Linked DNA regions of Homo sapiens: region 1 is linked to region 2. The links come from fine-mapping of genetic effects on gene expression. A gene starts in region 2. The other region holds a variant in brackets. All regions are shown on one strand. Distances are between the middles of the regions. Region 1 overlaps CRTC1 (CREB regulated transcription coactivator 1). Region 2 holds the start of CRTC1 (CREB regulated transcription coactivator 1).

What was found.
Region 1: its variant is fine-mapped to the expression of CRTC1 in whole blood (INTERVAL, PIP 0.94).

The regions. Positions count from the first base shown.
Region 1 is chr19:18,740,895-18,752,693 of GRCh38, reverse strand. It overlaps CRTC1 (CREB regulated transcription coactivator 1), which reads right to left. Exons shown (of 14, transcript NM_015321.3): 2 at 9,668-9,784; 3 at 6,734-6,871; 4 at 5,580-5,641; 5 at 2,819-2,913. Among named protein-coding and RNA genes, the nearest start is that of COMP, 45 kb to the left of the region's middle. RefSeq lists an enhancer at 2,588-3,571. The variant C/T (reference allele first, on the strand shown) is at 4,750.
Region 2 is chr19:18,676,528-18,692,803 of GRCh38, reverse strand. It overlaps CRTC1 (CREB regulated transcription coactivator 1), which reads right to left and starts at 9,124. Exons shown (of 14, transcript NM_015321.3): 1 at 8,976-9,124. The coding sequence starts at 9,101. RefSeq lists a silencer at 9,135-9,224 and an enhancer at 9,435-9,734.

The sequences.
Region 1 (11,799 bases), 62 kb before region 2:
ACTCCAGTCTGGGCGACAGAGTGAAACTCTGTTTCAAAAAAAAAAAAAGAAAGAAAGAGAGACAAAGAGAAACAAGGCTGGACACAGTGGCTCACACCTGTAATTACAGCACTTTGGGAGGCCGAGGCAGGCAGATTACTTGAGCTCAGGAGTTTGAGACTGCCCTGGGCAACATGGCAAAACCTCACCTCTACAAAAAATAAGAAAGTTGGCCGGGTGTGGTGGTGCTCACCTGTAGTCCCAGCTATGCGAGAGGCTGAGGTGGAGGGCTCGCTTGAGCCTGAGAGGTAGAGGCTGCAGCGAGTTGTGATCATGCCATGGCGCTCCAGCCTGTGTGACAGAGCAAGACCCTGTCTCTAAAATAAAATAATATAAAACAGCAGCTCTGGAGCCTGAGGATGTGTGGATTCTGCTTCCCACAGAAGAGGCTGAACCAACGTGGGCCTCAGAGGCGTCAGGCTACAGAGAACAGCCAAGAATCTCTCCCAAGAGCAGCTGCCTAGCTTGTGTGTATATTTTTCTTTCTTTCTTTTTTTTTTTTTTTTTGAGACAGTCTTGCTCTCCCACCCAGGCTGGAGTGCAGTGGCACCTTGGCTCACTGCAACCTGCGCCTACTGGGTTCAAGAGATTCTCCTGCCTCAGCCTCAGATTATAGGCATGTGCCACCAAGCCCAGCTAATTTTTATATTTTTAGTAGAGATGGGGTTTCTCCATGTTGGCCAGGCTGGTCTCAAACTCTTGATCTCAAGCAATCTGCCCACCTCAGCCTCTCTCCCGAAGTGTTGGGATTCCAGGCATGACCCACCGCGCCTGGCCCTAGCTTGCATGTTCTGTTCCGCATCCACCACTTGATCTTGCTTCCTGCTCTGGGCTGCTGACACCCAGTGGCTGAACCTTTATTGAGCCCCCGGCACCAAGCACAGGGGTTCAGATCATGTCACTCAATGCTGATGGAGGTGGGACCAGTGCACTCATGGCAGCAGCGGCCCCGTGAGTCAGCCACAATGTCAGCCAGCCCCAGAGCAAGAAGAGGAGAGGGAGAGTCTGAGCGACGGGATGGATGGGCATCAATTGAGGCTCTGGAACCAGCCGGGCCTGAAAGTGCCTTTCCTTGGATCTTTCAGTCAAGGTAAGAGTAAACATTTCCCCATTTTCTTTTTTCTTTTGAGATAGGGTTTCACTTTGTCACCCAGGCTGGAGTGCAGTGGCGTGATCTTGGCTCACTGCAACTTCCACCTCCCAGGCTCAAACAATTCCCCCTCCTGCCTCAGCCTCCCGAGTGGCTGGTACCACAGGCACGTGCAAACACTCCCAGTTAATTTTTTTGTATTTTTGGTAGAGACAGAGTCTCACTATGTTGCCCAGGCTGGTCTCAAACTCCTGGCCTTGTGATCCACCCACCTCGGCCTCCCAAAGTGCTGGGATTGCAGGCGTGAGCCACCACACCCAGCCCATTTCCCCATTTTCTTTATGCCTGTTGCACATTTCATTTTTTTTACTTGTAACTGGGAGACCCACGATGAGCACAGCCAGATAGGCCAACCCCTTCCTTGTTGAAAGCCAGGCTGCGAGGAGGCAGCCAGGCCAACCCCAGCCCTGTCACCACCTCAGGCGCTCCGAGGAGAGTGGGGATAGATGATGTGTCCCTGCCAGGCCCCCACTCCAAGGCCACCAGGGGTCCCATGTCACAGCTCCTTTCCCAGGTTACAGTGTTCCAGGGGATGGTGACATCCTGTTGCCCACCCCTCGGACGTGCTGTCTGTGGGGACCTAGTAGGACAGGCAGCAGCCTCAGAACAGCCTGCTCATTAGGAATAGCAGGGAAGCCCCAGGCACTGTGCTATCCTCAGCACCCCTGGGTGTTCCAGAAGCCTCATTTTCATTATGGAGACATTCTCTTCTCCCTCCCGTCTCTGCTGCACGCTGAGCCGGAACCCCGGAGTGAGGTTCTGGCCAACAGTCCTCCTCCTCCTCCTCTTCCTCCTCCTATCAGCAGAATCTCCCTTGCGTGTTAACCACCCACTCGGTGAACGGCAGCAATACAAGCATAGGTATGTGAGCCCTAAGCACGTGCAACTCCCTGGCTTCAGTGCCTTGGGCCACACCAGGTTCCCTGGGGCTGGCCTCAAGCCTCCAAGCTCCCTTCTCTGATGGCACCGCCCCAGTTTTTAAGACAGCATATGCCCTCCTTGAAGGTTCCCAGGGTGCCGCCTCCACGCCCGGCTTCAAATTGGAGCCAAGGACCTGGGTACAGATCTGTCCCCGCCACAGGGGTGTGCATGGCTCAGCTGGAGGCGACACTCTGGCCAAGAGTTGGGAAGAGATGGCCTCTTTCTCACTCGCTATAGCTAGGACGGGCCCAGGGGCTGCAGGCGAGGAGAGTTCTCAGCAGCAGAGCCAGGAAACAGTCCAGTGGGAAGCAGTGGAAGGAGCTGAACCTGTGGCTAGAAGTCGACCCCTGGCCTGCTCTGTCATGAGCTGACAAATGCTCCTTTGCGTGGGCTTGCTGCCGCTACATTTGAAACCAGCATCTGTGCAGCACCCAGACTTCATGGCCACGCCCTCAATCCAGGAATGGGAGCCAACGTGCGCCTGCAGGGTTGTTTTCTCTGCCTAGAAAACTCCTATGCACTCTTCAAAATCCAACTTAAGTAGCACCACCTCTGAAAGTTTCCGATCCCCTCCCCCGATCCCTCAGCATGGTCTGAGTCTTCCTTTGAAGAGCCATCTGCCCACAAGCTTGTGACCTCCTGGAGAACAGGGGTTACCTGCTGGACTTGCCTCACCCCAGCAGAGACACCCGAGTCCCCTGTCCATACCTCTTTTCTGGTGCACGTCCTGGGACCCACTGCTAAAGGATTCTGGCTGCGTGGGCGTCATTGTGCTCTGGTGCAGGGCGGAGTCAGAATTGGTCCTGGTGGGGAGGGAGGAAGAGACAATGAGCCTCAGCCCAAGGCAGACAATGCGATAGTCCTGATCCCAGCTGGGACACGCTGGATGGACAGGGTGGCAGCTGTGGATCATTTTTGTGAGCTGCTGCACCTGAGCAAAGCTCTCGGGACCTCATTCTAAAAAGAGCCACCAGAGTGACTGCGGTGTTCATCTGCAAAGCTCGTGAAAAACAAAAAGCAGCCGCGCGAGGTGGCGCACGCCTGTGGTCCCAGCGACACAGGAGGCTGAGGTGAGAGGATCACTTGAGCCCAGGAATTCAAGACCAACCTGGGCAACAGAGCAAGGCTTCTTGGCTTTGGGGAAAGGACAGTGCCCTCCTGCTGAAACCTCCCAAAGAAGGAGCCCCACAGGTGCCCAGCCTTGGGGTATGAGCCTCCAGTCTGTCACCAGGTCCCCTCTTGGTGACAAACACAATCAGGTGACTGTGCCCTCTAGGATGCTCAGTGTCACACAAACCCAGTGTGACAGGTGGAATGGGCTAGGAGAAGGCCCCGGAAGGAATGAAGCCACTTAGAGGCCCCCGTGGTTGGGAAGCCAACCTGAGGCAGGAGGTCTTGCTTCAACTAGCCCAGGAGAGGCTCTTCCCTCTACCTCCAGGGACCGCATTTCCCTCTAGGAACTGATGGGGAGAAAGCACAAGGCCACCCAATCTGCTCCTGGCTGCAGGTGCCTCAAGAGTGGGTCCCCAGAAAGCCTCCTTGGCTGCCAGGCAAAATGTGGGTACAGCCACCACCAGCTATGTGTCTCTGAGCAAGTGTTTTGACCTCTCTGTGCTCAATTTCCTCATGTCTAACACGGACTACAATGGAGATGAACACACTGCCCACTCCATAAAGCTCCATTCATTTTATATAAGTTAATGAATGTGATGGTGGGAACAGGGCCTGACCTATGATACGGGCTTGGTGAGAATTTAATATTGTAGTATACATATATATTTTGAACAGCTTGCTTACTTTTCTTCCGTTTACTAACATGTGTGTGTATGTGTGTGGTGTGTGTGCGTGTGTATGTATGTATATGGTTTTTCTTTTTTTTTTTTTGAGACAGGGTCTCACTCTGCCCCCCAGGCTGGTGTACAGTGGCATGATCATAGCTCACTGCATCCTCAACCTCCCAAGCTCTAGTGATCCACCCGCCTCGGCCTCCCAAAGTGCTGGGATTACAGGTGTGAGCCACTGTGCCTGTTATATATATTTCTATTGTAGTAAAATATATATAACAGCCAGGCACAGTGGCTCATGTCCTGTAATCCCAGCACTTTGGGAGGCCGAGATGGGTGGATCACTTGGGCCCAGGAGTTTGAGACCAGCCTGGGTAACGTGGCAAGATCTTGTCTCTCCAAAAAAAAAAAAAAAAAAAAAAAAATCAGCTGGAAGCAGAGGTGGGACGATTCAGTCTGGGAAGTCGAGGCTGCAGTGACCTGTGATCGCGCCATTGCACTCCAGCCTCAGTAACAGAGTGTGACCATGTCTCAGAAAAAAAATTATATACACACACACGTTTGTATACATATGTATGTAAATATGTGTGTATATATGTATAGTTTTAACTGTTTTTGAGTGTATAGTTCTGTGACATTAAGTACATTCACATTGTTGTACAACCATGATCTATATTATTGTATGTTTTTATATTAACTATATTATTGTTATTTTAGGCCTTGGAGACAGGGTCTCGCTCTGTGGCCCAGGCTGGACTGTAGTGGCATGATTACAGCTCACTGCAGCCTTGACCTCCTGGGCTCAAGCAATTCTCCCACCTCAGCCTCCCGAGTAGCTGGGAGTACAGGCGTGCA[C/T]TACTACATCTGGCTAATTCTCTCATTTTTTGTAAAGATGGGATCTTTCTATGTTGTTCAGGCTGGTCTTCAACTCCTGGGTTCAACTGATCGCCTGCGTTGGTCTCCAAAAGTGCTGGGATTACAGGCGTGAGCCACTGTGCCTGGCCTGTATTTTTCCTAATCTTCCATCCTAAATGTGTTAATATAATTTTATCATCACATTTTTAATGGCTGTTGAGTAACATGGGTACCTGCTCTGAATACAGCATTAAATAGGAAAGAGCAAGCTACAGTGCTGAATATGCGGTATCGTCCCACTTTCTTTTTCTTGCGATGGAGTCTCACTCTGTCACCCAGGCTGGAGTGCAGTGGCTCGATCTTGGCTCACCGCAACCTCCGCCTCCCGGGTTCAATTATCCCGCCTCAGCCTCCTGAGTAGCTGGGGATTACAGGCATGCGCCACCATGCTGGCAAATTTTTGTATTTTTAGTAGAGACGGGGTTTCACCATGTTGGCCAGGCTGGTCTCAAACTCCTGACCTCAAGTGATCCGCCTGCCTCGGCCCCCCAAAGTGCTGAGATTACAGGCCTGAGCCACCACTCCTGGTCCCACTTTTGTTTTTGTCTTTTTTTTTGTCATAAGTGGGGGGAAGGGAAATGTTAGAAGACCTCCCAAAGCTGGAACTCCTGTGTTTCAGGGTGAAGGCTAATTTCTAGAAACTTCTGGATGCATCTTAGTTTGGTCATTGTTTAAGCGACTGTGTCCTGCTTTTCCACATGTAACCATGATGAGAGTTTGGTTTTGTTTCCAACAAGAAGGGGGCGGGGGGGGGGTGTCCAGCCACTGACCTTCTCCAGCTGGTGTCCGCGGGTGGTGAGAGGTACATGGTGCCATAGGGGCAGCTGTCGGCGTGAGGTGAGTTAAGGGGGCAGTGCCACTGGCTGAGACCCCGCCTCCAACAACACACTCTCAGCCCAGGGCAGGAAGCCCCGGCTGGCTGGCTGGGGTCGGCCTGAGGCCTGCAAACAGCTGGGACCAGTAGGGCGGGGGGCGTTTCCTGCCGGCCTTTCCTGCCTGGCTACAAGCAGCCCCCGTTCCAGGGGCTCTCCAGGGGTACAGCCCTGTCCACCTAGCACTCAGCACTCTGCTCCGTGAGCACACGTGCGGGCTGCACCCCTTCCAAGGGAGGGGGTTCTGGGCTGTGAAAGTAGGGCCTGTGGGGACGCTGTGGAGTCTGAGTTCAGCTGACCCTGGTCTGGACTCTCCATCCTGGGCTGACGGGGTGGCTCCTGGGGCCCAAGGGCTCAGTCTGGGGCCCAGCTGGTCAAGCTCCCCCAGCCCACGGAAATGAGAACCGGAGAACAAGCTTCTCTGTTCTGGAGAGCCGGGGGATCCCGGGAGCAACCTGAGGCCGCTCAGACTCTGGTGTTGTGGGGCCCGGCTGGCTGAGCACCAAGGGGCGGCTGAGTTGGGGGGGAGGGGGGGACTCTGGCTGATCTCTGCGTGACCGAGTCGCAGAGGCGAATTTTACTCCTGTCTTACAGAGATGGAGCCTCCCTTGGATGCGTCCGGGTCTCACACAGACCCCCTTAGCCCCATTGCCTTGGCTGGGCTGCCCTCCGTGCAGCGCGTAGGAGAGGCCTCATCAGCTCACAGCCCTGACTGTGGGCTCCCTGCTCACGGCCTTCCTGGCCCCACTGCCCTGCCAGGTGTCTAAGCCCTCTGTGGTCAGGTATAACCTTCCTCAACTCCTGCCTTGAGAGCTGTTCCCTGTGCCCCTTGAGCCCCCAAGTCTGGCCAAAGGCTCCAGGGCTTGTGGCACAGCCTCCTCCAGGAAGTCCCCCAGGCTGCCCTGAGATCAAGCCTCCCAGATGGTGCTGCCCTGATTCTGTCCCCAGAGCTGGAAGCAGGCAGCCCTGTCAGAACCTGCTGGGTAAACTTGGGGTCCTGCCGGCACCGACAGGGCCTGGCCCCCACCCTCATCCTCTGGTGAAAAGGATATCTGCCGTCCGTGTTTGTCCACTGACAGGGGCCGGCGGTGTGGGGAGCCGAGCCGGCCACGCTCCCGGTACACCCTGTCCACCAGCCCATGGTGCCGGGTGGTCCGGCTGGTGTCCAGGCCCGAGGATTGGAAGGGGGTCTGGGGGAGGAGGAGATGGAAACAGAGAGAGAGAAATCCAAACAATGGTTACCAGCTGTGGCCCCAGCGCTGGCCCCAGAGTCTGATCGCAGGGCCCCCCACTCTGGAGCACCCTCGGCCATCGCTCCACAGCCTGGGATGGGCTTCTTCCTTCAGCCCCAGCTCCCTGGCTCTCCAAGCACTGGGGGGTAGGGAGGGGGTGTGAGCTGGGGTCCCGGGAGCCAGGGTGGCAGGGGCGTGCAGTGCAGCTGGCATGCACAGGCCAGGCAGAGCGGCACAAGCTCGGGGCCAGCGCCCGCCGGGTGCCAGGGATGTAGCCGGCCTAGGCAGCCCTCCTCCCCAGTCTCACCAGGTGCAGACAGGCCTCCGCCCTCTCTCTCCGGGCCTGGACGGCCTCCTACCCCCACCTACGTCATCCCTGGAGGGGCCTGCCAAGAGACAGCCCAGGGGCTTCCAGCCCAGGACTGTTTCGGGGCCCACCTGGCCAAGCGCGAGTTCCTGGGAGGCTTCCTTGTGGAGCCCAGGGCTGCTCTTGATTGAGACGCGGCCCCCACACACCCTCCCCCGCAGCCTCCTCCAGGCACTCCAGGCACCACCAGAGCCAAGTACAGGCGCCTTCCGGAGCCATGGCCCACTGCTTGGCTGGATGGGGCTTCCTCCCAGCACCTGGGGCTGGCACCAGGCTGGCCCTCCCCAGGCCCTGCTACATGCCCGGCCTCATGCCCCCGGGGCTGCCAGGAGCCCGCCCTGACCCTGTGTTGCCCACTTGCCATCTGACTGGGGTGAGATCAGCAGGCTCTGCCAGCTTTGGATGCAGCCAATCCCCCAGTCCGGCCATCTGGCCCCTGAGCCCTTATGCCTTCTCTGGGCAGCCGGGCAAAATGAGACTCTGATACTAAAGTGAGTCTCCTCTCCAGAAGCCTGTCCATGGCTAGGATTGCTGCTTTGTCCCAGCCTCGGCCAGAGTTCAGGGCTGACTACTGTCCCCAGCCCTGGGGACCCCCAAGTCTTTCTTCGATCCAGCATGAACTCTGCTGGTTTGGGTCTTTCCGTGGCTCTTGCCCCCAAAAGGCTGTGGGCATGGGAGACGTGGGCCTGTGACGATGAGGGTGGGAACTGTGCTGTCCAGTGCACAGGCTCCTCAGGGTAGGGGCAATTCATCTCCTTCCAGAGATGCCTTGAAGCCCAGAGGGAAACTGAGGCAGCCAAAGCCAAGTCAGAGGCAGAATGAAGCGGGGGCTGGCCACACCCGGGCTCGCCACGTCCTGCCTGCTGGCCTGGTTTGGGAGATGCGTGCACACGTGTGTGTATGTGTGTGTGTGTGTGTGTGTTTGTGTGTGTGTGTATATAGGGACGGACCATGCAGCTTTGGGGCACATGCTGGGATTCTGCTCTGCTGGACCCCAGATGGGGATGCGCGGCTATGGCATCTGCCCCAGATGGACCCCAAGAGTCCCCAGGGCCTCTCGACGCGACCATACGCACTTCCCGAGATGGGGGTGCGGAGTGGATCCATTTCCATTTGGCGGACGGGACACCTCCACCTCCCTGGGAGCCGCAGGGGCGGCCGCTTGGGGAGCTCAGGGATCCCCAGCGCCCGCACACGGGTCGGGGTCTTGCAGGCTGGCGCCGGGGACGCCGCGGCCTCAGCCTGGGGGCTCATTTACCAGAGAGACAGGAGCCGCTGCCAGGGCCTCCCCCAGAAATCCGCTGGGCTGAAAATGCAAAGAACCGAGACTTTGAGACGCTGCTGCCTTGCCTGGCCCCAAAGGCGGGATGCGTGGGACCTCCCCCCGGGCTGTGGGCCTCGGGCGACAGACACCCAACAGGGTCCTGTGCCCCTCAGCCCCACTCAGGCTGAGCTTGCAAGGTGCCCAGAGAGAGACTCTCCTCCAGGGAAGAGGGGACAGGAGAAACAGGAAAGGGAGAGAAGGGCAGGAGGGGAGAAAACCTGGCCAGGAAGGGCTGTGACAAAGAACACGCCCAGCATCAGTGATGGCCCGCACTCTGTATGCCGGAGGAGGCGCACCGTGGTGGCCAGCCCAAGGATCCCTGCCCTGTCCAGCGGCGGTGCAGGTGGCGGTGGAGCTGGTGGGTGACTTGGGAGGGGCCCCGGCTCCATCTGGCCTGTCAGTGGCCATGGCTGTGTCCGAGGTGGTTTTCTCAGCCACAGAGTAGGTGTGACCCCCCCCCAGGGGGACCTGTCCATGCAGAGCCCAGACACCGTCCTGGGGGTGGCCCTGATTCATAGGCCAGCTCCCTCGGCCCCACCCCATCCCCATCTCCACCCGCAGACCAGGGACAGGGAAGAGGGCCGCTGTGGGCCTTATCTCCTGTTTACGATAAGGCTGTGCACGGCGGCTGTGCGGCCTGCGGGAGCCGCGCTGTGTGGGCCTCTGCCAAGAAACGTTTGCAGACAAGTGGGGTCAGGCCGCCGGGCCTCCTTCTGAGAATTGCTGGGCTTGCGGATTAGTGAGGCAGGACAGAGCCAAGCCCCAGTGGCCCCGAGCGGTTCCCGCTGCCGCACAGCCGGCCAACAGGTGTAGCGGCTGCCGAAATGCTGGAGGCCAGATGGAGGGCTCGCCTCGGGGTCTGCTGATGGGGAATGGGCTGCGGGGGCACCCTGGTGGGGCCACTCTGCTTCCTCTGGTTCCCAGGGCAGACAAGGAGAAGGCAGTGGTTGGGTGGGCTCCGCCAACTGTCTGATAACCCCAGCTGTCCTCAATGTCTGGCCCCCAGTGGGAGGCTGGGGGAAGCTCCCCACAATGGGGCAGGGCCAGGGGGCGGGGCACTCACCTGGAAGGGCAGGTCCATGGTGCCACTCCCGATCTGGTTCACGTTGGGCAGGGACCCGCCATAGTACTGGCCTCGGCTGGGGCCCAGTTGCAGGTACTGGGATTTCTGGAGCTGGAGCTGCGAGAGAGAAGCCAGCAGCTGCGGGAGGGGTCACCTCCCAGGCTCACCTCAGAGTGCCAGCCCCAAAGGCACAAAAAGACCCAAGTGGTGGGATTGACAGCCTAAGTGCAGAAGTTTGCAGGACCTCATGACCCAGATGCTTAAGGAAACCAGGTGTCCCTCCACCAAAAATGGCAGAATCAGAAACCCGAGGTGCCGGGACGGCTCCCCAGGCGGGGCAATGCACCATGCAGAAACCCATGACCGTGAACCTGGGGAGCTGGCTGCCTTGCTGCTGATTCGGTCAGTCAGTGAATGGGCAAGAGAGGCACTGGCGGGCCTGCAGCCTGCCAAGGAGGCCCCTCACCAGCCCAGGGGAGCCATTTCTTATCACGGCCAGAGGCTGTGACTTGGCAGGCCAGGCGGCTTCCCACTGGCCTGAATCGGAGGAAGCTGTCTCAGAAGCGTGGTGATGGCCTTCAAAGCGTGGGACTTGTGATCCCGACGGCAGCCCACACAGAGCCAGGGCAGCCAAGTCAGTCCCCCAGACCCAGCTTGAGTTCTAGAGGGTCCTGAGCCCCATGTTCCTTCCTCATGGTCCTTCCCAGCCTCTTGGGGGCTGGGCCCAGCTGAGCGCCTTCATCTCAGCTGCATCCCTGCTTCCCACTCCCTGATGGCATCGGGGCACAGAACCAGGGGCCAGGAGCTCCCTGATGGGTCACGCTGACTCTGAACAGGGCTGGAAGCTGGCCTCCTCCCCTTCATGTGGCTGATGCTGATTTGCCAGTAACAGAGGCCCCTGACCCATGTGGCACGACCCGAGGCCCTTGGGGATGCTGGTCCATGATGCCTGCCATGCAACTGGGGGAGGCAGCCACCGTGAGGAGAGGTGGGGCTGGGCAGGCAGGAAGGAGGGGTGGTTGTCCACTCTGGCCCGGCAGGGGCGGTTGCTAGGGTGGACACTGTGTACACAACAAGGCCGACTCGTTCCTTACAAACAGCTCCTGGCAGTGCGTGGAGAGCTGGCTGCCCCACCGCCCCAGCTTCCTAGGGGGCCCTGGACACCGGAGGCGGAAGTAAAGCCCGGGAACTGGCCACCTGCCCGGCTGAGCACCTCGCCCAGGTAAACAGCTGTTTCCTGTGAGCTGAAGTGGAGCCGATGGTAAGATTAACCTTGTGTGTTATTGGGTGGCTCTCGAGGGCCTGGGGGTGAGGCCCAGGGTCTGTGCTGGGAGCCCTTGGTGGCCGCTGGCCAGACACATACACAATGAACATCCACAGTGTCCCTCCCAGCAGTCACACCAGATGAAACAGGCCAGCTCCGGGCTGTGGCAGAGGGAGGGGGTGTAGGGTGGGGGTCCTACAGCTCCCACCCCACACCTACCTGGGCATAGGTCGCCTGTGGCCTCCCGTGACTTTCTCCACCCTCTTCTGTGTCCAAGTAGCATGACAGAAACCTGTGCTACATTCACCTCTCACTGACTATATGGCCCTAAAGGCTGTGACCCCTCCTGGACCTGTGTCCCCGACCTAGAGTGAGTGCTACAGGCGGGTGTGAGAGGGACACACGACGTGTGACACAGCAGGTACTCATGCCACATGTGCTTTCTACACGGGCTGAGCTGCCAGCTCCCAGGAGGCCAGACATCAGGGGCAAGAACTCCCTGAAGCAGCTTTGTTTACACTATGTCCCCGGGCCACAGGAAACCTGGGATGCGGGGACAATCTACAGGACTGGGGACACACAGAACTCTCATGGTTCCCAAGCCCCATCTCTGTCCAAACCTTGCCCACAATTCCCAGCTCCTGTCCACTTTGCTGGAGGCACTCAGGCTTCGGAGCACAGCCCCTGGGCCAGGAGTGGACACTGAGTGGGGACTCTGCTTTTCTTTTTTGTTGTTGTTGTTGTTTGTTTGTTTTTTTGAGATGGAGTCTCGCTCTGTTGCCCAGGCTGGAGTGCAGTGGCGCCATCTTGGCTCACTACAACCTCCATCTCCCAGGCTCAAGTGATTCTCCTGCCTCAGCCTCCGAAC
Region 2 (16,276 bases):
GTGCCCGGCCCAGAAAAATGAATTTCTAACTGCAGAGCCACAAGTGCCATGCCTGTTCCTGAGCCAGGGACATCTGCTCCTCACCCAGCCCTGCAGCCCCTGGTTTCACACACGCTGAGGGTCCAGGAAGCCCTCCCAGATTCCCCAGAGCACGTGGACCTGGTCGCTGCACACCCTAACCACTTCTTTTTTTTTTTTTTTTGAGACAGAGTTTCACTCTTGTTGCCCAGGCTGGAGTGCAATGGCATGATCTCTGCTCACAGCAACCTCCACCTCCCAAGTTCAAGCAATTCTCCTGTCTCAGCCTCCTGAGTAGCTGGGATTACAGGTGCATGCCACCATGCCCAGCTAATTTTTGTATTTTTAGTAGAGACGGGGTTTCATCATATTGATGACGGTGAGGGAATTAATTTCTGTTTTTCATGCCCCTCACTTTGTGGTAATTTGTGACTTTAGCCAGTGGCAAGGAACCCCGGGCCTGACAGAACCTGTAGCACCAGGTAACCTTGTGGACTTCACATCAGGACAGGGCTGCAGCCGCTTGCAGATGCATAAGTCCAGCCAGCTCCAGCTGGCTCCGCAGGTTTTGTGTGGGGTTACCACCGAGGCCCGGAGTGGACCCTTCATTCAGCCCTTTTTAGTAGCAGGGGCCCTTGCTCTACACTGGATGAGACAGAGGGAGACAGCAAGAGCAGGGCCTGGGGTGGAGGATCAGGACCACAGGGTCGGGGTTGGAGTGTAGGAGCTCAGTGTTCGGGTATGGATTGTGTCCTAAGAGTGGGGGTGGGGAAGACCGAGCGCGGTGGCTCACACCTGTAATCCCAGCACATTGGGAGGCCGAGGCAGGTGGATCATTTGAGGCCAGGAGTTCGAGATCGGCCTGGCCAATAGGATGAACCCCATCTCTACTGAAAATACAAAAATTACCCAGGCGTGGTGGCAGGAGCCTGTAATCCCAGTTACTCGGGAGGCTGAGGCAGGAGGATCGCTTGAACACGGGAGAAGGAGGTTGCAGTGAGCCGAGATCACGCCACTGCACTCCAACATGGGCGACAGAGTGAGACTCCATCTCAAAAAAAACAAAAAAAAGAGGCACCGGCAGGCCCATGCTTCCTCCAGAGGCTCTAGGGGAAGACCCTTCCTATCCCTTCCAGCTTCTGGGGGCTCTGGGCATTCCTTGACTTGTGACCACATCGCTCCAATCTCTGCCTCCATTGTCACATGGTCCTCTCCCCTGTGTCTCTGTGTCCTTTCTTGTCTTTTTTTTTTTTTTTTTTTTTTGGAGAAAAGGGTCTCACTCTTTTACCCCAGCTGGAGTGCAATGGTACAATCATGGCTCACCACAGCCTTAACTCTTGGGCTCAAGTGATCCTCCCACTTCACCCTCCCAAGTGGCTGGGACTACAGGTGCACGCCACCACACCCGGCTAATTAAAAAACAATTTTTTTTCGTAGAGATGAGTTCCCTCTTTGTGGCCCAGGCTGGTCTCAAACTCCTGGCTTCAAGTTATCGTCCCATCTCAGCCTCTCAAAATGTTGGGATTACAGGCGTGAGCCACTGTGCCTGGTCCCCCTCCATCTTTTCCTTTTTCTTTTTCTTTTTTTTTTTTTTGAGACAGGATCTCACTCTGTCACCCAGGCTGGAGTGATTATAATTCACTGTAACCTCAAACTCCTGGGCTCAAACAATCCTCCTGCCTCGGCCTCTGAAAACTCTGGGATTAAAGGCATGCATCGCCACTCCCAGCCCACTCTTCTTTTTTTTTTTTTTTTTTTTTGAGACGGAGTCTCGCTCTGTCATCCATGCTCGAGCGTAGTGGCGTGATCTCGGCTCACTGCAAGCTCTGCCTCCCAGGTTCACGCCATTCTCCTGCCTCAGCCTCCCGAGTAGCTGGGACTACAGGCGCTCACCACCACGCCCAGCTAATTTTTTTGTATTTTTAGTAGAGACGGGGCTTCACCATGTTAGCCAGGATGGTCTCGATCTCCTGACCTCGTGATCTGCCCACCCCGGCCTCCCAAAGTGCTGGGATTATAGGAGTGAGCCACTGCGCCCAGCCATGGCCCACTCTTCATAAGGATACCAGTCACCGGATTTAGGGCCACCCCCCCAGGATGATCTCATCTCCAGATCCTTACCTTAATCACATCTACAGAAACCTTTTTTCCAACTAAGGTCCAATTCACGGGTTACAGGGCTAGAAGGTGAGCAGATGCTTTTTAGGGGCCACCACTCAGCCTGCTGCAGGGCATGCAGCTCACAACCTGGGGAGTACTGAGACAGCTTAGCTTTTTGGAGGGGCCTGGAGAGTGATGAGGATGAGGGCAGCTTGCCCCACCTTTTGTTCAGGGAGCAGCTCAGGGAGTCCTGCCTGTATATGGAGGCTGCGGATGGCAGCAGACAGCTGAAGCAGCCGGCACAGAAACAAATAGCGCCAAAGCCAGGACTGGGGGGCGGGCTCCACACTCAGCTAACCTGAGCCACCACTGCGCTGTGCCTGCAGCCCAGGGGCCCGTTTTACTCCAGCTTCACAGTAGGTAACAGCAGGAGAGTGCCCTCCTTCAGCCCTGACCGTGCCACCATGACTGTCTTGCCTGGGTACTTTTTCTGGCCCAGGTGTTGCTGTCTGAGGTCATCAATGATCAGTCATACGAGGAATCCCCAATGTCCTGAACCCCTGGCAAGCAGACGACACTCCCCCCTTCCCTTCCCCTCACCCCCAACATCCAATCCTCCAGCACGTCTGGGTGGCTCTGCTGCAGAAATGCCACCAAATCCACCCGCTCTGTCACCCCCTTGCTCCAGCTATCATTCCCCCTGATCTGGACACCTGCAGCGGATGCTCACACCACACCCATCCCACTCACAGCCACAGCTATCCTCCTGAGACACACGACGTCCTCAAATGGATAAATGGAGAGTTACCAGAGGACCCGGCAACTCTACTCCCCAGCACATGCTCTGAGAAATGAAGATATACATCCACCCAAAAACGTGGACAAAGATGCCAACAGCAGCATGATTCACGACAGCCAAAGGTGGAAACAACCCGTGTTCATGGCCAGATGAATGGACAAAACGGGGTAGACCCACACCATGGAATATGACATGAACTATTACTGAGCCATGCCGGTGACGGTGCACCACACTGGGAATAAACTTAATGCCACTGAATTTTATACTTAAAAAACGTCAAAATGGTAAGTGTTATATTACATATATATATATATATATATATGGCCATCAATTTTTTTTTTTGAGATGGAGTCTCACTCTGTCGCCCAGGCTGGAGTGCAGTGGCGTAATCTTGGCTCACTGCACTCCAGCCTGAGAGACAGAGCAAGACTCTGTCTCAAAAAAAAAAAAAAGAAAGAAAAAGAAAAGAAAGAAAGAAATGAAGCACTGATCCAAGTTAGAGGCTTGAAGTCACTATGCTAAGTAAAAGAAGGCAGACACAAAAGGCTTCATGGTGCAGGATTCGCCTCACTGTGTAGGATTCTATTGATATGAAATGTCCAGAACAGGCAAATCCATAGAGACAGAAACCACATTAGTTGACCAGGTGTGGTGGCTCACACCTGCAATCGCAGCACTTTGGGAGGCCAAGGCGGGTGAATCACTTGAGGTCAGGAGTTCGAGACCAGCCTGCCCAACATGGCAAAACCCTGTCTCTACTCAAAAATACAAAAATTAGCCGGGTGTGGTGGCACCTGCCTGTAATCCCAGCCACTCAGGAGGCTGAGGCAGGAGAATCACTGGAATCCGGGAGGCAGAGGTTGTAGTGAGCTGAGATTGTGCCACTGCACTCCAGACTGGGTGACAGAGCTGAGACTCTGTCTCCAAAAAAAAAGAAAGCAAGCAACCAAAGCAGATTTGTGGCTGCCAGGGGCTGGGCAAGGGGGAGTGGGAAGTAACTGTTGATGGGGACAGGGTCTCTTTCTGGGGGTACGAAATGTTCTCAAGTTGACTGGTGTTGGCTGTGCAAATGTGAATATACTAAAAGCCACTGAGTGGCGGAATGCCATGGAAATGACATCTCAATAAAGCTGTTACAAAAACAAGCGGGGCCAGGCGCCGTGGCTCACACCTGTAATCCCAGCATTCCGAGAGGCCGAGGTGGGCGGATCACCTGAGGTCGGGAGTTCAAGACCAGCCTGACCAACATGGTGAAACCCCGTCTCTACTAAAAATACAAAATTACTCAGGCGTGGTGGTGCATGCCTGCAATTCCAGCTACTTGGGAGGCTGAGGCAGAAGAATCGCTTGAACCCAGGAGGCGGAGGTTGCAGTGAGTCAAGATCGCACCACCACACTCCAGCCTGGGCGACAGGGGGGGCTCCTCCTCAAAAAAACAAACAAACAAACAAACAAACAAAACAAGCAGGGAGGCTTCCCAGACCCCTCCCTCAGGGGAGATCCAAGCTCTTGCAGCCTCACCTGCCCTCCTCCCTGCTTTCCACCCATTCTCAAACTCGCCAAGTCATTCCCACCACAAGGCTCTGACTGTGCCTGTCCCCAATCTGAAGTGCTCTTCCCTGCTCTCTGGGGATGCTGTGTCACCCCTGTCCCAGCCACTCCTAGCACGTGGCTGAGCCACTTCTCTCCCAGCGTGTGCCACCTTCTGAGGGCGTCTGCTTCATTCGGATGCATTGATGCTCTCCTGTCCCCCCTAAAACTATGCTGGCTCCCCAAGAACACAGCCCCGTATGCCCTGTACACTGCAGGAGCCCCAGCACCCCAGGCTCTTGAGACATGCCAGACAATGAAAATTGTCATTTGATGGAATGAACGCGCTGCCCCAACTTTACAACTCAGGATTCTACGGCCCAGAGGGGTTGAGAAACCCACCCAGTGTCACACAGCAGAGCGCCATAGACAGCCTGCCTGTCACGCTGACCCAAGCCTAAGAGTGGGAGGGAACGCCCACACACCCACCCCTCCGCCCCAAGACCTGCAAACAGTCTCCCGACTTTACGCCCTGTCCCCCAACCCTTCAGTGCTTGTGCCCTGGTGAGGTCCCTGTCTTCTAGCCAAACATCTGCTGACTGGCCTTCCACGGCAGCAAGACACCTCAGGTGCCATCACCACCGGCAACTGTGAACAGACACGCATGAGTGACATGCTGTCCTTTGGAATTCAAAGGAGAGGAGCAGGTGCCGACCCGATCATGCCTCACCTGGCTGCAGGTGTGGCCAAACCCCTGCTGTCTACAGTATGGGAGGCAGCGCGCCATGGCTGCAGGAGGGAAGCCCACATCATATAGGTTCATTCACCTGCTCCAGGCACGGCGGACATGCCACTTGGACTGTGCAGTGGCCAGTCAAACTGGGAATAAGCTTGCCCACCCTGGTCGCAGCCTGCCAGAGATGGCACAGCCATATAGGTGGGAGCAAAGGATGGAACTCTACCTGACCAGGTGCAAAGCTCACACCCTGGCCCACCTCACTGTTACACCTCTAATCAAAAGTTTCTCAGCCTTGGCTGGGCACAGTGGCTCATGCCTGTAATCCCAGCAATTTGGGAGGCCGAGGTGGCCGGATCACCTGAGGTCAGGAGTTCGAGACCAGTCTGGCCAACATGGTCTCTACTACAAACCCCATCTCTGCTACAAATACAAAAATTAGCCAGGCATGGTAGCAGATGCCTGTAATCCCAGCTACTCGGGAGGCTGAGGAAGGAGAATCACTTGAACTCGGGAGGCAGAGGTTGCAGTGAGCCGAGATTGCGCCACTGCACTCCAGCCTGGGCAACAGAGCAAGAGTCTATCTCAAAAAAAAAAAAAAAAAAAAAAGTTTCTCAGTCTTGGCACTGCCGACATCTGGGGCCAGATTATTCCACACGATGGGGCCATCCTGTGCACTACATGTAGGGGGTTGGGCAGCATCCCAGCCTCCACCCACCAGATGCTAGAAGCACTCCCTAATCATGATGACCCAAAATGTCTCCAGACATCACCAAGTGTCCCCTGGGGGGCAGAATCACCCCCTGCCCCAGAAAGAGAACAATGCTTTGTGTCTAAAAATCTAGTGTGAACTCACCTCTGCCCAGAGCCCATGCTCCCCTGACCCCAGGTGATGAGGAAGATGGGAAATGGTTTCCAGGGCTGAAAGAACTGCCACCTGCATATCTTCAGAATCTTGTTTTTGTTTTTGTTTTGAGATGGAGTCTCACTCTGTTGCCAAGGCTGGAGTACAGTGACACAATCTCAGCTCACTGCAACCTCCACTTCCCAGGTTCAAGCGATTCTTCTGTCTAAGCCTCCCGAGTAGCTGGGATTACAGGCATGTGCCACCACACCCGACTAATTTTTGTATTTTTAGTGGAGACGGGTTTCACCATGTTGGCCAGGCTGGTCTCGAACTCCTGACCTCAGGTCATCCACTCACCTTGGCCTCCCAAAGTGCTGGGATTACAAGTGTGAGCCACTGCACTTGGCCTCAGAATTTTTCTAAATTCATTGACTGATGAATGGATAAACAAATACAATATATCCATACAACGGAATATTACTTGACCCTAAAAAGGAACGAAGCACTGATCCATGATACTACAGAGATGAACCTTGAAAACATGACGCTGAGTGAAAGATGCCAGTCACAAAAGGCCACGTGTTGTGTGATTCCATTTATATAAAATGCCCAGAATAGGAAAACCCACAGAGACAGAAGACAGCTTAGTGCTTGCCAGGGGCTAGGGGAGGGGGAATGGGGAGTGACTGTTAATGGGGACGGGGTTTCTTTCTGGGTGGATAAAAAATGTTCTGGAATTACAAAATAGGGGTGGTTGCACAACTCTGTGAATATACTAAAAACCACCAAACTGTACACTTTAAACAAGTAAATTGTATGATGTGTGAATCATATCTCAATAAAGCTATTATTTTAAAGAGATGTTTTCAACAACAATAATCTATTTCCAATCCCACGCAGAAACTGGACTTCTAATCAGAATGACACCCATGAACCTACTGTGACCCCTTTCTTCCGGTCACACTGCAAACATTTGACAACAACTGCATGCCAGCACACACCATGTGCTGGAGACAAAAAGAAGTGGCCACTCCTGCCTCAGAAGCCCTGATATGTGGGGGACACTCACGTGGAAGGATGCTCAAGTTGCACACTTTCTTCTTATTTTCTTTTTTTGAAATGGAGTTTCACTCTTGTCACCCAGGCTGGAGTACAGTAACATGATCTCGGCTCACTGCAACCTCCACCTCCCAGGTTCAAGTGATTCTCCCACCTCAACCTCCCCAGTAGCTGGGATTACAGGTAGCTACCACCACGTCCGGCTAATTTTTATATTTTTAGTACAGACAGGGTTTCACCACGTTGGCCAGGCTGGTCTCGAACTCCTAACCTCAGGTGATCCACTGCCTCAGCCTTCCAAAGTGCTGGGATTACAGGCATGAGCCACCACACCTGGCCATTTTCTTATTTTTTTTTCATTCATTCATTCACCAGCCATCTCTTTCTCTACATCCTGAGCAAGAATGTAGCTGCTTGGAGCTGGGAGGACAGATGTGGCACACTCACCGAGCATGCCTAAAGCAGTACCTGGGTGACAGTGAGCTCCCAATCATTACCAACACAGAAATGAAGACACAAATCCTAGTCTATAAGGTCACAATCTCTCAGAGAAACAAACAACTAGTTACAAAGTAACACAGACTGAAAGTGCTACCTAAGGAATCAGAGACTGAGGTTAAGTCTACCTGAGCCAGTCACATCAGTGGCTGAATCTGGAAACCAGGGATACGAGCATCTGCAAAGCCCACCCAAACCCTCCCCAAGGCCCCAGGATGCAGGAGAGAGGTCTCACCACACTGCAAGAACAAAGTGGAGATTCAGCATCACCTTTGCAGAGTGTGCTCACCACCCTGCCCCAAGAGGAAGGTCTTGCTAGAATGCCTGACAAGAAACTGAGGCCTGAGGAACTCGGGTGCCTTGCCGTGCTCAGACACCAGCCCCAAGCCCCTGCTCCTGGCCCACAGCAACTTCCCAGGTGAGATTTGCAGGGTATCTGCTCTGCCAGACAGGAGCCTGGCAGAACCTGGCCTGCCCCTGCACACCAAATGCGCCCAGCCACCTGAGGCAGACCTGGCCCTCCACCCTGGTCCTGAGAGGGCAGGGGCTGTGGTCAGCATCCCCTGTTCCACTGGGAGGAACATCACCTGGCCCCCACCATATGGGCTACATGGAGAAGGGGCAGCTGTCTCCACTCCAAGTTCCAGGACTGAGCACAATCTGCCTTCTTGGCCCCCCTCTGGACCCCCTGGGGGACAGGATCTGACCATTCCCTCAGCTGTCCAAGAGGGAGAGATCCCTGTCCCACCTCAGCTCTGCAAGTGGGGACATCCGTTCCTCCCCCAACACCCAGGGAGTAAAGGCACAGGTAACCATGACGTAGAGACACCGGTCCCCCTCAGGTAGCAAGAATGGGAGGGCATCTGTCCCTCCCAGGTAGCAAGGATGCGGGGGCACTTGCACCCTCACCCCCAGCTACCAATGGTGCTTGCAAGCAGCACCCAGCTCATACACCTGTGTCATCCTGCCCCCCCAGGTAGCAATGATGCGGGGGCACCTGTCCCTTCCAGGTAGTAATAATGTGGGGCACCTGTCCCCCTCGGGTAACAATGATGTAGGGACACCTGTCCCCTGTCAGGTAACGACGAGGTACTAGCACCTGTTCCCTCCTAGTAGTAATGATATAGAGGCCCCTGTCTCCTCCGGGGAGCAGTGATGCAGGGCACCTGTACCCCATCAGGTATGGATTTTGTGGGGTCACCTGTCCCGCCCACGACGCCCGGGGCGTGGGGACACCTGTCCCCCTCGGGCCGTGCCAAGCCCCGCCCCCGCCGCGCGCGCCCCGCCCCCGCCGCGCCCCCCCCCACCCCGCCCCGTGCACGCGCCGGACACGCGCCCCCTCCCTCCCTCCGCCGGCCCTGAAGGGTCGGCGCGGGCAGCCCCCTTACCCGCGCGGCCCGCGTCAGGCTCAGGTCCTTCATGACCTCCTCGAAGGCCGCCGTCTCCTCCGCCTGCTTCTGATTGTGCAGCGCGATCTTCTCGCTGAATTTCCGCGGATTGTTCGAAGTCGCCATCTTCTCGCCGCCACCTCCTCCTCCTCCTCCTCCTCCTCCACCTCCTCGCCCCCCCACTCGCCCGTGCCACCGCGCAAGCGCCGGCTGGGCCCACGGGCGGCGAGCAGTGCGCAGGCGCGCCGGCGGTCGTGAGCGCGGCGCAGGCGCACAGGAGCGGCGCGCGGCGCGGGGGCGAAGGCGCATGCGCGCGCCCAGGCGCGCGCTCGGGGCCCGCGGGAAGGGCGGTGGAGCGCGAGTGGAAATTTCAACGCCGACGCAGTGATCCGCCTCCTGGCCCGCTGGACAGCGGCCTCTGGGCTGTTGGACAAGGACCGCGGATCGGCTGGGGCACTGGAGCCCCCAAGAGGGAGACGGCCTGACCCAGATCCTCCCAATTCACAAGGGTGGGGCCAGGCACCCCCCCCCGCAAGGATTGGTGGCACCCCAAGTTGAACCTGGGTTTGGACTAAGAGCTCTGAAAACAGACTAGGGCGTTGGTCACTCATGCATTCATTCATTCAAGGAATATTTACTGAGCACCTACTATGTGCCAGGCAAACTGGAGTACAGGCGTGAACAAGCAGAGGTGATCCCTGCCCTTATGGAGTGTACAGTCAGAGAGGGGGCAGACATAGCACACAAATAACCAAGAACTTTTCAGATGGAGGTAAATGTGATGCGGTAAATAAGACCAGTGGCCAGCCACAGAACATTAGGGAGGGAGGCTCCTGCAGCCACCACAGACAGGGAGGCGGAAAGTTATCTTAGCTAAGACCTGAACCCTGCAATCGGCTCTCTCAGTCCATAAACCTAGCTGTTGCCCTTAACGACTTTCTTTTTTTTTTTTTTTTTTCCCTTGAGACCGAGTTTTGCCCTTGTCGCCCAGACTGGAATGCAGTGGTGCGATCTCGGCTCACTGCAACCTCCTCCTCCCAGGTTCAAGCCATTCTCCTGCCTCAGCCTCTCCAGTAGCTAGGATTACAGGCAGGCGCCACCACGCCCAGCTAATTTTTTTATTTTCAGTAGAGACTAAAGACCATGTTGGCCAGGCTGGTCTTGAACTCCTGACAGCAGGTGATCCACCCGCCTCGCCCTCCCTAAGTGCTGGGATTACAGGCGTGAGCCACCATGTCCAGCCGACGACTACTTTTTCCCATTCCCTTGCAATGGGCATATTGCTATTCTCTGGATACCTGAGCCCAAAGAACTGGAGTTACAGAGCTTCAGCCTTCCCTCTGCATACTTCTCCAGTCCAGTCTTGTTCAAGGATCTCTATTTTGCAACAAGGTGCTAACAGAAGGGTCCAGAAATCCCATCAAGACTCAGCAGTGAAGGAAGGAGCAGAGACTCCCCCGATGGCAGAGTGGTAAGCCAGGGAAGCAGGAGGGACTCTAACCCTCCCTCCCTCAAGAGAGGGACCCCCAACCACCAATATTGAAAGTTTATATTCAGGAGGCTGCAGGGATTTCAGAGTATGGGCTGGGTGGAAGCTAGGAAGGTCAGCTGGGGGAATTGATGATGGCTCTAATGGCACAACAAGCACACATTTTATTGGACTGAGGATGGCTGGAGGGGATGCTGACATCTTCCAAACATGCTTTGATTCATGCTTTACAACAGGTAATAAAATGCTCATGTTAAATATATATATATATATATCGATTTTCATTTAGAATGCCTTGGATATTGCCACTGCCCTACTTTATCTTTGTTTTGAGACAGAGTCTCACTCTGTCGCCCAGGCTAGAGTGCAGTGGCGCAACCTTGGCTCACTGCAATCTCTGCCTCTCAGGTTCAAGCGATTCTCCTACCTCAGCCTCCCAAGTAGCTGGGATTACAGGCATGCACCATGATGCTCAGCTAATTTTTATGGGATTTTTTTTTTTTTTTTTTTTTTGAGACGGAGTCTCTGTTTCCCAGGCTGGAGTGCAGTGGCACAGACTCAGCTCACTGCAACCTCTGCCTCTGGGGTTTAAGTGATTCTCCTGCCTCAGCCTCCCAAGTAGCTGGAATTACAGGAACCCACCACCACACCCGGCTACTTTTTGTATTTTTAGTAGAGACAGGGTTTCACCGTGTTGGCCAGGCTGGTCTTGAACTTCTGACCTCAGGTGATCCGCCCGCCTCAGCCTCCCAAAGTGCTGGGATTACAGACATGAGCCACCGCACCCGGCCATCTTCCTTCTTGATATGATTTTGCGCACTTTGGTAAGCTCCTATACTTTTTGCCTAACAAGCATATTCCTTCTCTCAACCCCACCCACTCCCTCAACTTTTTAGTGTCAACAACCCTTATTTGGGGAACACTGGTTCTGACTTTCAGTCTGTGAGATGTGAATGGCTGGTCTCACCACTCTCCCACCACACAAACACCCCTCCCTAAGGTGGAAGTCTTGGCCAATCAGCATAGCCCATTGTGCTGGCCATCAAGATTGGTTCAGGCCAGGCTGGGTGTTGTGGCTCATGCCTGTAATCCCAGAACTTGGGAGGCCGAGGCAGGAGGATCATTTGAGCCCAGGAGCTTGAGACCAGCCTGGGCAACATAGCGAGATTTAATCTCCACTAAAAATAAAAAAATTACCTGCGCGTGGTGATGCCTGCTTATAATCCCAGCTACTCAGGAGGCTGAGACAGGAGGATTGCTTGAGCCTGGGAGATGGAGGCTGCAGTGAGCTATGATAATGCACTGCACTCCAGCCTGGGTGACAGAGCAAGACCCTGTCTCAAACAAACAAACAAACAAACAAACAAAAAACAGGCTGGGCGCTGGGTCATGACTGTAATCCCTACACTTTTGGAGGCAGAGGCGGGCAGAACACCTGAGGTCAGGAGTTTGAGACCAGACTGGCCAACATGGTGAAACCCCATCTCGACTAAAAATACAAAAAAAATTAGCCAGACGCGGTGGCACACGCCTGTAATTCCAGCTGCTGGGGAGGCTGAGGCAGGAAAATCACTTGAACCCAGGAGGTGGAGGTTGCAGTGAGCCAAGATAGCGCCACTTCACTCTAGCCTGGGCAACAGAGGGAGACTTTGTCTCAAAAAAAAACAAAAGATTAGTTCAGCTGGGCCAAAAGAGTGGACCCACACAGAGGAAAACAGAACCAGGCCTGGCACGGTGGCTCACAACTGTAATCCCAGCACTTTGGGAGGCCAAGGTGGGTGGATCACTTGAGGTCAGGAGCTTGAGACCAGCCTGACCAACATAGGGAAACTCCATCTCTACTAAAAATACAAAATTAGCTGGGCATGGTGGCACATGCCTCTAATCCCAGCTACTTGGGAGGCTGAGGCAGGAGAACAGCTTGAATCCAGGAGGCAGAGGTTGCAGTGAGCCGAGATCACATTACTGTACTCCAGCCTGAGCTTCTGGATCCAGCCATTCCTGAAGCTAGACTCACCTGCCTTTTAAGTTATGTAGGCCAAAAATTTATTCCCTTTTGTGCTTGTCTATTTGTTTTCTTGTTTGTTTGTTTGTTTGTTTTTTCAGACAGGGTCTCACTTTGTTGCCCAGGCTGGAGTGCAGTGGCATGATCATGCTCACTGAAGCCCCAACCCTTAGGCTCAGGTGATCCCCCCACCTCAGCCTTCCAGGTAGCTGGGACTACAGGTGTGCATCATCATGCCTGGCTAATGTTTTGTGGTTTTTGTAGAGACAGGATTCATCCTGTTGCTCAGGCTGGTCTCAAACTCCTGGGCTCAAGTGATCCGCCCCCCTCAGCCTCCCAAAGTGCTGAGATTACATGTGTGCACCACCGTGCCTGGCCTGCCTAAATCTATTTCAAGTCCTTTTTCTGTTCCTGGTTCTGACTGAGACTGCAGCTTCTGTGAGTCCAATGCGAGACTGGGCCCGCTACATATGTGGCTTCTAGTTCTTTTTTTTTTTTTTTTTTTTTTTAAACAGAGTCTCGCTAGGTCTCCCAGGCTAGAGTGCAGTGGTACGATCTTGGCTCACTGCAACCTCCGCCTCCCAGGTTCAAGTGATTCTCCTGCATCAGCCTCCAGAGTACCTGGGACTACAAGCGTGCGCCACTACGCCCAGCTAATTTTTGTATTTTTAGTAGAGATGGGGTTTCACCATGTTGGCCAGGCTGGTCTCGAACTCCTGACCTCAGATGATACTCCCACCTTGGCATCCCAAAGTGCTGGGGTTATAGGCGTGAGCCACCACGCCTGACCGGCTTCTAGTTCTTGACAGCATCCTGTGAGGTCAGAGAAGAAATAAAGACAGAGAGCAGGGACAGCAGCTGCCCTAGCAACTTATGCACCAAAACTCAGGCCTCACAGCCGACCTCAGCTGCTTTCACACACTGAGTTTTGTAGGCTTTAAATGAAGTTAGCCAGGCGTGGTGGCTCACGCCTGTAATCCCAGCACTTTGGGAGGCTGAGGCGGGCGGCTCACCTGAGGTCAGGAGTTTGAGACCAGCCTGACCAACATGGAGAAACCCCGTCTCTACTAAAAATACAATATTAGCCGGGCGTGGTGGCACATGCCTGTAATCTCAGCTACTCGGGAGGCTGAGGCAAGAGAATCGCTTGAACCTAGGAGGTGGAGGTTGCAGTGAGCCAAGATTGCGCCATTGCACTCCAGCCTGGGCAACAAAAGTGAAACTCCATCTCAAAAAAATACATAAATAAATAAATAAAATAAATGAAGTTAATAAGTGTCAACTGCCTTACTTCTAAGAAGTGCTCCGTAATTGATGCCACTTACCCTAATCAATTACATGTATCTTTTTTTTTTTTTCTTTTTTGAGACACAGTTTCGCTCTGTTACCCAAGCTGGAGTACAGTGTTGCGATCTCTGTTCACTGCAACTTCCAACCTCCGCCTCCCTGGTTCAAGCAATTCTCCTCCTACTTCAGCCTCCCGAGTAGCTGAGATTACAGGGGTGTACCACGACGCCTAGCTAATTTTTTCTTTTTTTTGAGATGGAGTTTCGCTCTGTCTCCTAGGCTGGCGTGCAGTGGTGAGATCTCGGCTCACTGCAGCCTTCACCTCCTAGGCTCAAGCGATTTTCCTGCCTCAGCCTCCTGAGTAGCTGTGACTACAGGTGTAGGCCACCACACCCGGCTAATTTTTGTATTTTTAGTAGAGACGGGGTTTTGCCATGTTGGCCAGGTTGCTTTCGAACTCCTGACCTCAAGTGATCCTCCTGGCTCGGCTTCGCAAAGTGCTAGGATTATAGGCGTGAGCCACTGCACCTGGCCCTGTAGGCTTTAAATGAAATTCGTATGTGTCAACATACGTTAATATGTTAGTATGTTAACATATGTTAATATGTGTCTCACTAAGAGGTGCTCCATAAATGCCACTTACCCTGATCACTTACATATATCTGCACTAAGCCAGTTTCCAGACACAGGAAGATGGAAGAGAAAAGATTTTGGGGACTAGCAGGGGTTACAGCAAGGAGCCATCCTGGGCATGTGCAGAAGTAAGTCTGCTGCTCTTCCTACTCACCCCCATTCACCCCGCGGCCCGCCTGGCATGAAACTTGATCCATCCTAAACCCTGGTGATGAGTCAGAGGAAGCAGCCAGCCCGCTCATTGTGCAATGGCCAGACAGCAGCCCAAGCCCCGCTTCTTGCTCCACTGACCCCCAGCCCTGAGAAGGGCGAGGCTTCAGTGTCCAGTGACCCGGGCAGAAACCAACCCTGAGGTTTTCACTTTCTTCCTTCATCAAAGGAACTTGCTGTCACCCAGTGTGGTCCAACACTGCTCCTCACAGCAGCCCTGCGGGCTTTGCAAAGCAGGGCAGATCCCACACTCCCATCGCACTTAAAAAAAAAAAAAATCTAAAGGCTTGGCGCAGTGGCTCATGCCTGTAATCCCAGCACTTTGGGAGGCAGAGGCAGGTGGGTCACCTGAGGTCAGGAGTTCAAGACCAGCCTGGCCAACATGGTGAAACCCCGTCTCTTAAAAAAAAAAAAAAATGAAAATTAGCTAGGCATGATGGTGGGTGCCTGTAATCCCAGCTACTCGGGAGGCTGAGGCAGGAGAATCGCTTGAACCCGGGAGGTGGAGGTTGCAGTGAGCCGAGATCGCACCATTGCACTCCAGCCTGGGAGACAGAGTGAGACTCCATCTCAAATAAAAAAAAAATACCCTCCTCCTGGCGGCTCCACATGCTTATGCTCGGCTCGGCTCTCGCTCCAGCCACACGGGCCTCTTCGCTGTTCCCTCTGCCTGGATTGCGCTCCTCCAAGATGCTTTCGTGGCTGGCTCCTTCTCGACTTGCAGGCCTCTGCTCTGAGAGACCCTCCTGAAGGGTCTAGCTGAAGTGGACCTCCAGCGTCTCTTCCCATGACCCAGAAACATCCCATTCTCTGAAGGCAGCTGTTTGTGCGGTCTCATCTGATCCCTTGTAGATTGAGCTGAGATTATGTTCGCCTTTCCCAAAGAGGCCAGGGCCAGGCCAGAGTTCCCTGTGTGCCTGTGGAATGTGGAAAGGGCACAGACACACGTGATTTCTTATGTGTTTTTGTTCATTCGTTTGTGCGTTTTTAAGACAGAGTCTTGCTCTGTCACCCAGGCTGGAGTGCAGTGGCGCGAACTCGGCTCACTGCAACCTCCACCTCCACACCTGTAATGTCAGCACTTTGGGGGACTGAGGTGGGCGGATCACCTGAGGTCAGGAGTTTGAGACCAGCCTGGCCAACATGGTGAAACACCGTCTCTACTAAAAATGCAAAAAAAACATTAACTAGGCGTGGTGGTGCACGCCTGTAAACCCAGCTACCTGGGAGGCTGAGGAAGGAGAATTGCTTGACCCGGGAGATCAAGAAACTCTTGAGCATTTCTGTGTGGTCCAACACTTATCAGTTGTCAAGCTGTGTGACAATGGAAAACTGTCTTCACCTCTCTGAGCCGCACTGCCCTCCTCTGCTAAATGTGGACAGTGGTGCTCCTCATAGCAGGCTCTTGGAAAGATGAAACAGATAACACATGGAAAGCACTTAGCTCAGTGCCTGCTTCATCCAAGCACTCAGCAACTGTTAGGAAAGCAAAACGCTACTTCGCCATGTTAGTTTTCATGCTTTGCTTCTCAGCTCTTCCTTATATGGGATCTTAGTCGATTTGGGGTACCCACGTCGTGTGGAGGTGAATTAGGGCCATTGGAGCTGAGAGGCAAAGAGGAAAACAATCCCTGGTCTGTCTTTGACTTCCAAAAGAGGCTCTCATCGTACAGAGTT